Regions from separate parts of the Homo sapiens genome. Here region 2 is linked to region 1. A link means that fine-mapping ties the variant in region 1 to the expression of a gene that starts in the linked region. Tissue or cell type: lung. Region 1 holds a variant in brackets; the other region holds the start of a gene. All regions are shown on one strand. Distances are between the middles of the regions.

The links.
Region 2: it holds the start of TYW3, and the variant in region 1 is fine-mapped to the expression of TYW3 in lung (TOPMed, PIP above 0.99). The same link has a PIP of 0.9 or more in whole blood.

The regions. Positions count from the first base shown.
Region 1 is chr1:74,755,654-74,763,653 of GRCh38, reverse strand. All of the region lies in intron 5 of TYW3 (tRNA-yW synthesizing protein 3 homolog), which reads right to left. Among named protein-coding and RNA genes, the nearest start is that of TYW3, 27 kb to the right of the region's middle. The variant TG/G (reference allele first, on the strand shown) is at 3,955.
Region 2 is chr1:74,729,244-74,737,243 of GRCh38, reverse strand. TYW3 (tRNA-yW synthesizing protein 3 homolog) reads right to left here and starts at 4,092. Exons shown (of 6, transcript NM_138467.3): 1 at 3,826-4,092; 2 at 622-702. The coding sequence starts at 3,999. CRYZ (crystallin zeta) reads left to right here and starts at 4,194. Exons shown (of 9, transcript NM_001889.4): 1 at 4,194-4,288. RefSeq lists enhancers at 3,478-3,577, 3,958-4,247, 3,802-4,512, 5,108-5,397.

The sequences.
Region 1 (8,000 bases):
CAAATGTAGGGGTCAAAGAAGAGGGTAAAAAAGAATGCAATTATTATTACATAAATGTAATGGCTCATTTTAGGTAATTTGTATAATGTGTGAGGTTACAAATACAGATCACCTCTACATAACTAGAAATAACTCCTCTCAATATTTTTCTTTTCAGTTTATTAATGTAGTCTGAATTAATGTATTTATTAATTAATCCATATACCTATTTGTCACAATTAGAATATTACATATAAAGTTTTACATTGTTTTTTCAAAGTTATTATTTATTGAGAGTGGCAGTACAACATTATGTCATCTAGATTGGCCTTTATTTACATTCAAATTTTCCCTGATACAAACAAAAATGTGGTAAGCATTTTTGAAAATGATGTGATGTGAGTTTTTAGCCATTTCTTTATATAGACACCTAGAAATATCATTACATCGTTAAAAGGCATAAACATTACAAGGCTCTTGATAAATACTGCTTGTTTTCACAATAGATATTCAAAGAAATACGCTTCTAATAGCTGCACTTGAGAGAGATCACTACACCTATACACTGAATATTCCCATCAAAAAACACATTCTACCTGGATGGGTGAAAATGATATCGCATTATTTTAACTTTCATTTCTTTGTAAGTAAAATACAATGTTTCTCATTTATTAGCTATTTGAATTTTTTAGTGTAAATTATTGTTTCCCTTTATTCATTTTTCTATTGGAGTTTTAGTGTTAGTTTTGTGATACAATAAACTGTAGGCTCTCTGAAAACCAGGCCTCATTTCTTTTCTACCCTCATGTTAACACCTAACACAAAACTCTGCTTGACACAGTAGCCTGCAGCAGGCAGCATAGCATGGTGTGTTGCATGCATTTGACACCAACATTCTTTTAGGAAAGGTGATGTCAGCTAATTCCAATTAATTTCCCACAGTCTTGATTTTTCACATTTATAAAGCTGGATATTATTATCCTGTAGCTATCAGGGTTGTCACAGGATTACAGATGATATATGTAAGTACCCAGAGAGTTAGTTATCAAAAATGACTACTTTTATGGAATATAGACTTCATGAGAGCAAGGATCCTATCTACCTGTCTCCTGTTATATTCTGAGCATGTAGTAGAGTGCTGGCATACTCAGTAAGACTATATTGAATAAATGAATGAATAACCCCAGAATAAAAATGTAACTATAAATGTGTTATCCTAGGTCTCAAATCAGAATGATCTGAAAGTTAGGAAACCCCCCTGCCACTGCAGAGATCTCATCTTACTTTTATGTCCTATTATAATGGGAGACTATGGCAAGAAATTTTTGATATCTACAGAATAGATCTCTATTTGGACCAATTTTCATCTTTGTTTGATTCAATAAACAGGCTAAGTTCTACTTACGAAGCCTATAAAACTCCAAAACTCCAAATATCCACATATTCCTAAATATGTCACCTAACTCTAATACATATACAACATGATGAGTACACATCCTGTCCATTTTCAAGAACTTATGCACTCATCACTGTACACCTTGATATCTAGTGCTGTGCTTGGCAAACAACAGATGCTCAATAAATATTTTTATCAATGAATGAATTAATCTCAAAAACAGACACAGAGTTAAATTTAAAAAGACTGAGATGCGTGACATACATAACTTTTTGGGCCTTGTTCCATGGTAACATCCTTTCACTTAATGCACCCTTTACATCCTTCCGTTACTGAAACCTGGCTCCCCTGTAGACACCATCTTCCATCATTCCTCCCAAGCGGAGACTGCTTATGTTTTCCATATCCTGCTACCACAGAGCTGAGAGATGAGGTCAGAATAAAACCGGCTCATCAACATTTTCCCAAATTCCTCCATCTGCCCCTCATGTCATCTACCAATAATGTTTGGTTCCTTACATTGATGAAAACTTCTATGCTTGACTTGATCTTTCTTTCTAGGTCTTGTCACCATCTTAGGTGATGTCAATGACTGGTATCCTTCTCATGTTCCACACAGCCTGTTCAGAATGACTTACATTAACGTTATCTAAAACATAAATCTGAGCATGCCACAAGATGGTGTGGCTCATCCTGATCATAAGACGCCATCCCTGTTATACAACCTCATCTTCTACCATTCTTTATCAACCCTGCACTTTAGGCTTAGGTAACTGAGTGTTTTTTTCTGGATTATACTTTCTTCCTAGAAAATGAAAGATAAGATTAAATTGCTCCTTTATGATCACCGAGAATTAACAGCTTGTGAAAAATGCCTCATCCATCACATTAAAAAAAAGTAATTAAAAAGGAATGTATGCCTTACTTTAATCAACCATTAAAGAACCTAAGAATTCAAAGCTATGTCCTTAGGGTACCAAAACAACTGGTAAAATGGAACAAAGATCCTTTCCTGAATAAAAACTTCAAATACTAGTTTTCCTTTCCCTTTTCTAAGAGAACTTTAAAAGTCCTTTGAGAAACAGTACTCAGTAAGTCAAAAGTTATGTTCTCCCCTTATACAGTAACACTTAAGCCTGATTTTCAAAAGTGCAATTTTCTGAACTCTCACAGGCAACAAAATGAGCTCTGAGATTTAAGGAAAAAAAAAAAAAAGTATGTTCAGGCAACTGTATTTTTTCTCTCCTTGAAAGAAAAGCAAATAGCCTTCAGTTTTTCTGCCTCTGCAGTCAAGATTATCATAGCATAGGACAACTTGTACTTAGTTCTCTTCATAAGTTTTCAGGCCAAGCCTGAGAAAATGAATTCTTGTTTTTCAACGTCAGTTAGAAAACCACTTTCAACAGAAAGCTGGAATTTCTCTAACTTCTCAAACAAAAACACAGAATTGAGGAAACTGAGGCACAATTTTATTTCCTTTAGGCTTCCATCATTCACAAATATCAAAGAAGGCTATTCTAATATGTATTTAGATTTTAACTAGCATTTTCTTTAAAAAACAACATGTATGTGACAGGCCAAGTGCCCAGTACTAGAAGCCCAGAGAAGTGGTCTGTGGTCTGTGCCCTCAAGGAGCTCATGGTTTAACAGGAGCTACAGAACTGTAAAGCCACATTTAACACACCATGAAAAAGATGGGACACAGTGCTCTAACTGAAATCACAAAATGCTCTCCGTTATAAGATCCAATGCCTGGGCTGAACTGCAAGGATGAATGGAAGCTGACAATGTGCTAAGAGAGGAATTAGGAGGAAAAAAGATGGGGGCATGGGGGATGTCCCAGGAAACACTACTAGAAAATAAAATATATGTTTTCGCTTTATATTATTTACTTATTTGGTCTTAAGTATACAGTTGACCCTTGAACAATATGGTTTTGAACTACACAGGTCCACTTACATGCAGATTTTTTTTGAATAAAAGCTACACCAAATATTCCTGCTTCTCCTTCTACCTTCTCTACCTCTTCTGCCTCTGCCACCCCTGAGATAGCAGGACCAACCACTCCTCTTCCTCAGCCTACTCAAGGTGAAGACGATGAAGACAAAGGCTTTTGTGATGATCCATTTCCACTTAATGAATAATAAATATATTTTCTCTTCCTTATGATTTTCTTAATAACATTTTTCTCTAGCTTACTTTATTGTAAGAATACAGTACACAATATATATAACATACAATACATGTGCTAATCAACTGCTTATGTTATGAATAATGCTTCCAGTCAAAGGTAGGATATCAGTACCTAAGTTTCTTGGGAGTCAAGTCATATGTCAGCCAGGTGCGGTGGCTTATGCATGTAATCCCAACACTTTGGGAGGCCAAGGCGGGCAATCACTTGAGTCCAGGAGTTTGAGACCAGCCTAGGCAACATGGCAAAACCCCATCTCTACAAAAAAATACAAAAAATTATCTGGGCTTGGTGGTACATGCCTGTAGTAACAGCTACTCGGGAAGCTGAGGTGGAGGATCACTTGAGCCTGGAAGGCGAAGGTTGCAGTGAGCCAAGATCATGCCAC[TG/G]TACTCCAGCCTGGGTGACAGTGAGATCCTGTCTCAAAAACAACAACAACAAAAGCCATGTGGATTTTCAACTACATAGGGGGGTGGTAACCCTAACTCCATGTTGTTCAAGGGTCAACTATACAGGGAAATGTGTGTTATTTATTTAGCTGTTTTAGACCCATTTTTAGAAATGGTAAGACTTGACCATGTGCAGTGGCTCATGCTTATAATCCCAAAACTTTGGGAGGCTAAGGTGTGACAATCACTTCTGGCCAGGCCAGGAGTTTGAAACCAACCTGGGCAACATAGAAAGACCTCATCTCTACCAAAAAAAAAAAAAAAGAAAAGAAAAGAAAGAAAGAAAAATGATAAAGACTAGCAACTATGAGGAATCTAAGACAGCTCTTATTCTTTAGTCCTCCTTCTCTGTGTTACCCCTATTTCCAACCTGCTGCCATGTCTGATGGATATTCTGCAGTCTCATTCTCATTCATCTTGTTACTCAGGGACCTATTACTTCTTCCTTAGGCTATAGAAAGAGCCTACTTGTACTCACCCCATCTCTAAACCATCTGACAGGTCTTCCAGAATAAGCATCCTAATGCTTTGAAGCCTTAAAAAAAGTAGCACTATTTATGAAAAAGTCTAGTCAACTAAATTTGTGAACATTTATTAACCACTATTCTCATTCCAGACACTCAGAATATAATGAACAAGAAACTGTTTTTGCCTTTGGAGAACTCAATATAATGTGTTAACTTTCAAGCTCCTTTATCTTTTATCATTAATTCAATAAACATTTCTTGGGCTTCTACTGTGAGCCAGATACATGTTACATTGTAGGATAAGATATCTCAAGTGTGTTTGTGTATGTGTGTAAGGTTGGGGGCTGGTGGGGGGAGTCCTATCTTCAACGTGACCATGTTGCAGTGGAAAAAAAAGATGTGCAATTAAGTAATTGTAATTCAATGTAATAGAAATACCTGTTTTGCACTGGTAAATGATGATAAGAATCAGAACCATGAAAATGGCTGGTAAATGACGATAAGAATCAGAACCATGAAAATGGCTGGTAAATGACGATAAGAATCAGAACCATGAAAATGGCTGGTAAATGACGATAAGAATCAGAACCATGAAAATGGCTGGTAAATGACGATAAGAATCAGAACCATGAAAATGGCTGGTAAATGACGATAAGAATCAGAACCATGAAAATGGCTGGTAAATGACGATAAGAATCAGAACCATGAAAATGGCTGGTAAATGATGATAAGAATCAGAACCATGAAAATGGCTGGTAAATGATGATAAGAATTGGAACCAAGAAAACGGCTGGGGGATTTAGAATAAGGTAAGAAACATATTAAGGAAAAGCTGGTGAGAGATTTTAATTAGATATGTTCAAATGGTTATTGGATATGTTGGCCCAAGACTCTAGAAAGATTTAGAAGACCTGCCAGTACATGGAAAAGTAGCAGAACTAGTTGAAGCCATGGGCCAAGGACAGAAGCTTGGAGAACAGTATTTAATGAAGAGGAAGAAGAGAAACCTACAATGAAACTAAGAAGAAACATCACAAGCAGGAAGAAAAGCAGCAAAGTGATACAACAGAAATTCTTACTCTCTCATCTTCTAGGTAAACCGAACCATTCACTGATCCCTATTTATGGCTTACATATTGCCATCTGTATTAGTCCATTTTCGTGCTGCTGATAAAGACATACCTGAGACTGGGCAATTTACAAAAGAAAGAGATTTAATGGACTTATGGTTCCATGTGGCTGGGGAGGCCTCATGGTCATGGTGGAAGGTCTCACATGGCAGCAGACAAGAAAAGTGAGCTTGTGCAGGAAGACTCCCGTTTTTAAAACCATCAGATCTCATGAGACTTACAATCATGAGAACACCACAGGAAAGACCTTGTCCCCAGGATTCAATTACCTCCCACCAGGTTGCCCCACTGGCCCCTCCCAAATCTCATGTCCTCACATTTCAAAACCAATCATCCCTTTCCAACAGTCCCCCAAAGTCTTAACTCATTTCAGCATGAACTCAAAAGTCCATAGTCCAAAGTCTCATCTGAGACAAGGCAAGTCCCTTCTGCCTATCAGCCTGTAAAATCAAAAGCAAGTTAGTTATTTCCTAGATACAATGGTGGTGTGGGCATTGGGTAAATATAGCCATTTCAAATAGGATAAATTGGCCAAAATAAAAGGGCTACAGGCCCCATGGAAGTCTAAAATCCAGCAGGGCAGTCAAACATTAAAGCTCCAAAATGATCTCCTTTGACTCCATGTCTCACATCCAGATCATGCTGATGCAAGAGGTGGGTTCCCATAGTCTTGGGCAGCTCTGCCTCTGTGGCTTTGCAGGATACAGCTTCCCTTCTGGCTACCTTCACAAGCTGGCACTGAGTGTCTGTGGCTTTTCCAGGTACACAGTACAAGCTGTCGGTGGATCTATCATTCTGGGGTCTGGAGGATGGTAGCCCGCTTCTCACAGCTCCACTAGGCATTGCCCGAGTAGGGACTCTGTGTGGGGGCTCTGACCCCACACTTCCCTTTGGCACTGCCCTAGCAGAGGTTCTCCATGAGGGCCCCGCCTCTGCACTAAACTTCCATCTGGGCATCCAGGTGTTGCCATATATCTTCTGAAATCTAGATGGAGGTCCCCAGATGCCAATTCTTGACTTTTGTCCACTCGTAGGCTCAACACCACATGGAAGCTGCCAAGGTTTGGGGCTTGCACCCTCTGAAGCCACAGCCCCAAGCTCTACATTGGTCCCTTTCAGCCATGGCTTGAGTGGCTGGGACACAGGGCACCAAGTTCCTAGGCTGCACACAGCACAGGGACCTTGGGCCCAGCCCACAAAACCACTTTTTCCTCCTAGGCCTCTGGGCCTGTGATGGGAGGGACTGCTGTGAAGACCGCTGACATGCCCTAGAGACATTTTCCCCATTGCCTTGGGGATTAACATTCAGCTCCTCATTACTTATGCAAATTTCTAGGGCTGACTTGAATTTCTCCTCAGAAAATGGAATTTTCTTTTCTATCACATTGTCATGCTGCAAGTTTTCAAAACTTTTATGCTCTGCTTCCCTTATAAAACTGAATGTGTTTAACAGCACCCAAGTCACCTCTTGAATGCTTTGCTGCTTAGAAATTCTGCCGGATACCCTAAATCATCTCTCTCAACATCAAAGTTCCACAAGTCTCGAGGGCAGGGGTAAAATGCTGCCAGTCTCTTTGCTAAAACATAACAAGAGTCACCTTTGCTCCAGTTCCCAACAAGTTCCTCATCTCCATCTGAGACTACATCAGCCTGGATTTCCTTGTCCATATCATTATCAGCATTTTGGTCAAAGCCATTAGACAAGTCTCTAGGAAGTTCCAAACTTTCCCACATTTTCCTGTCTTCTTCTGAATCCTCCAAACTGTTCCAACCTCTACCTGTTACCCAGTTCCAAAGTCGCTTCCACATTTTTGGGTATCTTTTCCGCAGTGCCCCACTATAGTGGTACCAATTTACTGTATTAGTCCATTTTCACACTGCTGATAAAGACATACCCGAGACCGGGCAATTTACAAAAGAAAGAGATTTAATGAACTTACAGTTCCATGTGGCTGGGAAGGCCTCACAATCATGGTGGAAGGTGAAAGGCATGTCTCACATGGCAGCAGGCAAGTGAAGAGAACTTGTGCAGGGCGACTCCCGTTTTTAAAACCGTCAGATCTTGTGAGACTTATGCACCATCACAAGAACAGCACAGGAAAGACCTGCCCCCATAATTCAATTACCTCCCTCCAGCTCCCTCTCACAACACATGGAAATTCAAGATGAGATTTGGGTGAGGACAAAGCCAAACCATATCACTATCTCTTTTTCCTTTGTTCATGCTCTTCTTTTTTATCTATCATGCTATTTCCCCCTCCCACAGAGCTCTTCATATAAAAACCCTGCCTGCATTTTAGGCCCTGCTCAGTGACTTCTTCCAATATGCTTTCTTTGATTACACTATACCACTTCTGAGTATATATCCAACAGAACTGAAAGCAGTGA
Region 2 (8,000 bases), 26 kb after region 1:
ACTCTGAAGACAAGATTTGAACATCTGAACCAGCAATACTTGATTCTAGCTCCATTCGCCCTTTCCAGTTAAATAAATTATCTTTTTTGCTAAAAACAGAATTGGATTTGTAAATTCACTGGGAATGAAAAGTGCCTGGCTGATAAAAACTTATGAATTCATCTAAACTCTTTACCTTAGGAAACTAAATAACCCAGCAGAGATATGAAGATTTTCAAAAAGCAATGCAGGTAAGTAATGTATTATTTATTTATATCAGTAAAGCTGGTAACACAGAGATAGTGCTAATCCCCTTCTCTTTCCATAATTTGTTCTAGGTTACAGGGTTTTCAAATAGCAGAATTAAAATTCAAAATTTGGATCCAATAGGTGTCCAATATCCATGAACTTTCTGCTGTGTCCAAGAGGATGTGTTTTGTTGAGTAGCAGTAAGTAATGCTTCCATACTTTTTATCTCCTACAACCCAAAAAGAGCCATTGTAATGAAAGCTCTCTAGGTTTTATAATCTTCAGCCATTATAACTCTGCATATAAATTACCTTGAATTTTCTATTCTTGTCATATGTATTTAAAGTAACTGAATTTAAAAGTTTATTTCCAAATTTATTTTTTAAAACTTACCACATCATCTTTTACACAAAGTTTGTGTGTAACCAGTAGCCAGCAACAGTTTTGTTTCTGAACCTCAAAACCATTTATACCCTAAAATAAAAAATAACATAATTTAAGTTTCATATAATATTTTACAAAAATAATAAGCATAATGCATAGTATATTGTAGGCTTTCTTAAATTAATAATCCCAAGTCAGGATTTTAAGTATTAATAAAAACAATTCGGTATGTTTTTGGGTAATGTTAACCCAGAATAAGAATGAGCCCAAATAACTTGAGGTAGAAAATTATGTGAAAGGTAAAACTACTTGATAAACATCTTCTGAAATATGGTCATGATTTTGCAAGAAAAAAAGGGATTAGTATAAGGGATAATACTAGCAGCACCTGAGTTGTACTCTAGCTATTTGGCTAGCACAGTATTTAAAAATGAAAAAAAAATAATTTTAATTTCTTTTGTAGGACAGCACTGTCCCAATTCCACACAAGACCTACTACCCTTTATTGTCACCTATGCCGTTTACACATTTATAATACTTCCTTGGTCTCTAGAGGCATAAATTTGTGACCTCTGAATTAGACTTTAGATGTAGTCCTGAAGGATGGAGCTAAGACTGAAAGGTCAAAGTTTCATGAAGGCAAACATTTTAATATTAACTTAAATTGAACAAATGTTTATTTGCAAAGTTCTATTAGGTACTTTGGGTATACACAGAACCTACCCCTCAAGGACACTGGAAAGGGGATGCAGGAAACCACATGAACAGAAATCACTATACTCAAAGTAACTATAATTTATACGATGGATCCACAAGAGACTCTGCTGTCTGCCCTTGGAACCGGGAATTGCTATGCATGTCCTAAATAAATATTTTGACTTCATTGTATGACTTCGGTGATGGTGACTTACGTATCTGACATTGTGCTGGCTACTCTGAATCTTAGAGCCAAATGTATGGCCCACTTCTAGCAACTTTACAGGATCTAGTGGTGGGATTGGCAACTAATGCCATCGCTGGCTTCATCTTATCTATATTTTCTTTATCCAGATTTTCCCACTTTTTATTTTTTCTTGTGTTGCCTGTTTGTAAGTTGCCCCAAATCCTTACTGAAATAAGGCAGATTTTAAAATAAACCATAATACGAGGTGTAAGATAAGAAATAAAAGTCTAACCAGTACAGAAGCAGTCATTACTTCCAAGTAGGTAGTATGTGTTTGTGGGTTCAGGTGGGAGAGGGGAGTTTTGGGAATCATGTCTCAGATATGCAGAGATAGGAAAACATTTCAGGAAAAAAACCGCCAAAAAACATGAGCAAAAGCAAGTAAATACAAGATGAAAAGAACAGTTTAGTTTCAGTAACTAGCTAAAGATGAAGAAAAGCAATGAAAAAAAGGTTGAAAGGTATACTAGAGTAAGCATTTGGATTTTCTGATGTAGAAAAATGTGTAATAAAACATAGCATAGGTGAGAGATAAGCAGAGTTGCAATTTGTCAAACATGGTTTGGAGAAGAATAGTTAAGTGGCTTGTTAGAGAACCATTGCAAAAATCAAGGCGAGACAGAGTTATGGAAATGGGGCAAGAGAGAGTTTGTGGGCAAGAATGCCATTGCTCTGAAGGTGATGGAAGTGATTTAAAAATGAACAGGCCCTGCTAACTTGAGAGATCAGCAAATAAATGATCAGTCAATAATGGACCTAAAGAATGAGCCTAACAATGTGCTGTCTTCCATGCTCTTAAGCCAATACTACGAATAAAATCAGTACACAGCCAACTTTTACAGTGCATGGGCCAGGCACAAAGCCAAATATTTCAAAAAAAATTATCCTATTTTCTCCACACAAAATCCCTATAAAGCAGATACTTTTTATTATCCTCAGTTCATAGAACAGGAAGGGGCAGAGTTGAGATAGCTTTCCTAAGGTCACATAGCCCGTGGTTTTTAATCTAAGCAGTATCACTCCCAAGCAGCCTTATCCTCAGGGGATATGTCCCAAGACCCCCTAGTGGATGCCTGAAACCTCAGATCAATTTCTTTTTCCTTCTTCACTTCACAATTTCACTGACAAGATTCATTCTTTCCGTAGATCTTAGCAACCTCAGCATATGCTGTTTTTTCTTTCCTTAAGTCTTTCCTTAAGAACTTTCACCTTTTCACTTCAAAAAAGCACTTTAAAACTTACTGTTGGCAGATCCAAATCGCCAGCATCATTACTCCCGTACTTTGGGGCCATTATTAAGTAAAATAAGAGTTACTTGAACACAAGCACTGTGATACCACCACAGTCGATCTGATAACCCAGAAGGCTACCAAGCAGCTAAAGGGCAGCAAGAATATATAGTGGAATATTCTGGACAAAGGGATGATTCACCTTCCATTCTGGAAGGAGCTGGTTGGCTCAAGATTTTATCACGCTACTCAGAACAGCATGCAATTTAAAACTTACTAATTGTTTATTTCTGGAATTTTCATTTAATATTTTCAGACTGCTGTTGACTGGGGTAACTGAACCTGCAAATAAGGAGGTATGGCTTGTACAGCTGCTTCTTGATTTATGATGGGGTTACATCCCAATAAATCCGTCATAAGTGGAAAATGTAAGTCAAAATGCATTTACTACCCCTGTAAACCCATCATAAAGTTAAAAAAAAAAGTCTAACCATCCTAAATTATATACGATCGTACTTTTCTCTGCGTAAAACTACTAGAGTTGTAATAATGGAGGGGCTCACTAGGAGGCAGTAAACTCCTTAACACTGGTGATGTTCAAGCATGCAGTAACAATGATTTGCCAGAGCTGTTGATGAGCGGATTCCGGCATTCAATACCTTAGCAAGCTACAAAGTCTTTAGATTCCCTTAGTATTCATATAATAAAATCAAATTTTCTAAACTTTGCCACACAAGATAGTTCCCAGGTCAGCAGTTTCAACATCATTTGGGCACTTGTTAGAAATGCACAGTATCAGGCCCTACCCTACACTTAAAGAATCGGGATCTGTATTTTAAAAGATGCTCAGCTGATTAATAGCCACGTTAAACTTTTAGAAGCACTGATCTAATCCCCTAAATTTCACATATAAAGAAACAGAGACCACCCCTCAGAGGAGCAAACACAGACATGCTGGATCCGGTCGTCACTGGATGGGAACAGGGCTCCTGAAGTTTCGCACTAGAAGGCAGGCGATGGACAGGCGCAAAGGGGCCTCACCCGGTCAAGGAGTAGGATGCGGCCAGCGCAGGAGCTGGTGGTGAAAAACTGATCTCGCATGTTCAGAAACTGCACAAGCTCTACCACATCCTCGTCAACACTGCCCTTCCGGCTGAGGTCCGCTTTGCTCAAACATTGCGCCTTCCATTTCCTGAACTCCGCGCTGCGATCCATGGGTGACGGACTCAGGGTCTGCGCTCGGCTCCTTCATGGTAGCCTCGTCTCTCCCTGGGGGCAGCCATATTGAAGCGAGCGGTGGCCGAAAAGGTCCAAACTTCCTCTTCGTTCTTAATTTGGGAAATTCTAGTGCCTTCGCCTAGGGGTGGAGAGAGGCGCACATCCTGGGTGGAGCGAGGCGCACATCCTGGGTGGAGCCTGCAAAAGTTGGAGAAGGTGTGGCAGTCCTCATTTCTGTGGAATCTGAAGAAGCCCACGCAGATTTTAATTCCCACTCTAGATTCTGGTAAGTGGTTTTAAAAACTCTCCTTAGTTGTTTAGACAGCGAATCTCCCCACTGCTCGTCCAAGTGGAACCGAGTTTGATTTTGGCTGCACCCCTTTCCTGCCCTCTGTCCTCCCAGAGAACTAGTGCGTAGAGCTCCAGACCGAAGCCATTCCCCTCCAGGGGCTGCAAGTTCCCATCCATAAATCAGGTAGGAAGTTTTGCCTTCTGGTCCTGGGCTCCTAGCCCTGGTCCTGCGTTTAGGCTCTGAGTTTAGGCTACCACACCATGAGGTGTCCGTTGGCACTACCCCTGCCCAGCCTCCGCCCCCCGCACTCCCTGTCCCCCAGCCCCACGCTGCACCCCCCCCCCCCCCCCCCGCCAGTCACCCGCTTGATTTTTCCCTGCAGCCAGTGCCTGGGTTTGGGGATTCCTGCAGCAGCGCCCAGCGGTCTGTCCAGGGCCCCTTCCCACAGCCCAGCTCTCAGCTGTAGAGGATTTGTCCTAGGTAGGGCCCCTTCCCACAGCCCAGCTGTAGGGGATTTCTTCTCCTAGGTAGGGCCCCTTCGCACAGCCCAGCTGTAGGGATTTGATTTCTTCTCCTAGGTAGGGCCCCTTCCCACAGCCCACCTGTCAGCTGTAGGGGATTTCTCCTAGGTAGGGCTCCTTCCCACAGCCCAGCTGTGGGGGATTTCTTCTCCTAGGTAGTGCCCCTTCGCACAGCCCAGCTGTAGGGGATTTGATTTCTTCTCCTAGGTAGGGCCCCTTCCCACAGCCCACCTGTCAGCTGTAGGGGATTTCTCCTAGGTAGGGCTCCTTCCCACAGCCCAGCTGTAGGGGATTTCTTCTCCTAGGTAGTGCCCCTTCGCACAGCCCAGCTGTAGGGGATTTGATTTCTTCTCCTAGGTAGGGCCCCTTCCCACAGCCCAGCTGTGGGGGATTTTTTGTCTTGGATTCCCACAATTACAGGTTTCCCGGAGCTTCCTCCAGCTTTGCCATCAGGATTGCAGTCTTTGAGAGAAATGTATAGTTTTATTGACCCTGTGACGCCCACCACCTAGAATAATCTTCAAAAGAAAATTACAAAACACCCTGTTAACACATCGTTGGATGTTTATACTGAGTTTCTAGAGGAGACTCAGTGACCAGGGAAGGTGTGTCAATGATTAAACCTAAAGGCTAAAGTTTGGAATGCTTGTCCGTAGCTAATGGAAATTGTTGTGCGAGTCCCTCTGAAGCCACTGTGATTACGTGTCTGGTTAGCGCAGCGAGTTCAGCAGCAAATCTCTCCAAGCTCTACTCCTCCAGCATTAGGGAACAGACTGCCCTGTTCCATACGATCATGGAACCTGGAGGAGTCCGAAATTATTAAACTCCTCCCCTCTTCTTACCCCGTCCTATCTCAAGTGAACAGAAGTGACCTGATAAGATCACACAGCCAGGAAGAGACTTTCTCTGACCACTTGTAATTCTTGCCTTTTTTACATTTCTGGGTTAATAATAAACCATATGCTTACATGAGTCATTGTGTATTAGCAGCAGAACAATTTGTAATGATTGATTTTTTTTCTAAGTTTTCAGTTTTTAAAATTCTTGCCAGAATTCTTATTTAATTTTACTTTTGCTCTTGTCTCATAATGTTCCTTTGCTCTGGCTTTGTGACTTGATCTGTTCATCCTATGTTAAAATATACTCCTAACATTTTCCCAATTCCTTTAATTTTCGTTTAAATCAAATGGATACAAGCATAGCCAGGAAAAAGATCACTGTTGGAAGAGGGATTTTAGATTTTCTATTTCCTAGATTTGTAAGGCATATTGGCAACCTTTCAGAGGTAAAATTAAACCAAAAATTAAACCAAGGGACTCTTAATTTTTAAAAGTTTATATTTGATAAACAGGAAGGCCTATTTGAAGTATAGTTTAATTAAAAAGCACAAGCAATGGAAAGGCCTGTCCTGTTCACAAGGATCCGATGCTAGGGAGTAATTTTTTTTTATACATTTTTAAAAATAGAATCATGTCCTTTGTATTTCTGCTGCATTCCCTGACTTAGTGGGCATTTGAGAAATTTCAAACTCTAAGCAGATGCCTTAGTCATAAAATATGCGATTCTACCTGCAGGTTAGTTTGATTTCACATTTTCTAGCTCAATCTGTCTCACTATCACTATTGTAAAGTTTATTTCTACGAAGTAAAGGGTCTTATATGCCAGCATCTCAAAGGGTGAGATGAAAAGGATGGTAAAGAAAAAAATCAGCTAACACCATTTAATTACAGGACTTGGGTTCTAGCTTTGCTTCTGTGTGACCCTGACCAAGTCTCTTAACCTCTTGTGATGTTTTCTCATCCATAAAATGGATGGCGATTTTATTTTTACTTCTGCATAAAATAATAGTTTAAATAACTTCTCTACCTGTTCTGAAAACAGTTAAGTCAATGGAGGTGGAAGACTTATGCTTTTTAGAAGAAATCCGGTATTACAGGATTTTAAGTATTATCCTATTTGCCATCAGTATGCCACGTTATTTTATTCTTTGTGTAATCTCCTTTGACAGGCTTCATCGTTATGAAGCATATGATGATCCCGTGGATAGGTGAGTTCAAAGGCAATGAGTGCAGGTTGGAGCCTGATGAATCAGAATGCTAAAGGCTCAGTGGGAGATAAGATCAACAGAAGCAAAGTAGGAGATAGTGTGGTCAGGCCATGCCCCATCACTTTCAAGCCTGATAGGATAATGTAGTCAGATAGTACTGGGCAAAGCAGATGAGTCTTCCAAATCCAGTAGGATGAGTCATCTTCCTTTATTCCTTTCTCCCAACTTAGCCAATGCCAAAATGTGGGGGGGGAAAGATACAGATCCTATTTCAGAGTAATTTTACTTTTATTATTACAACAGTTTTTTTATGGTAATCATGAGATGTGAGTGAAAGAAATATGTAGGAAGTAGGTAGATATCGAAAATGGAAAAAGCAAGCATCTCATAGGCTATGTGTGTAGGTGTGAGAGAGAGAGAGAGAGCACCCAGCTTACAGAAGCTAGGGGCAGGGTGGGGCATTTTCTTCTTGCTCTTTGTGTTCTCTGAGTTTAACACACCACTTCATGTACAGTTAAGGTTCAGAAAAATACGCATTGCATAACAACCAATATTTAGTATTAATGTTTTGTTTAAGTCATCTTCTAGACCGAATTCTTTGAGAATAAGAGCTTGTTTTGATAACCAGAGTTCTGTAAATATCGTTATATTAAAGATGATTATAGAACTATAGAGTATATTTTTTTCATAACATTTTAATGACTTCTCTAGTCTGCTGCTTTTTTTTTTTTTTTTGAGACAGGGTCTCACTCTGTCACCCAGGCTGGAGTGGTGCAGTGGCAGGATCATGGCTCACTGCATCCTGATCTCCTGGGCTCAAGCAATCCTCCCACCTCAGCCTTCTGAGTAGCTGGGACCACTGGTGCTTGCCACCACACCTAGATAATTTTTTTTTTTTTTTTTGTAGAGATGGCATTTCGCCATGTTGCCAAGGCTGGCCTTGATCTCCTAGGCTCAGGCAATCCTTATGATTCAGAAATTGAAAAGAAGAATAGAGGGGAAAACAATAATGATGTCTACTATATACAAGATCATGTGTTTGCTAAGTTCTGTGCTTGGTGCTTGCCACGTCTCTAGCACGTAACTCTGAGTGGGATCCCAGATTTCAGATGAGGAAACAGCATCAAGAGGTTGACTG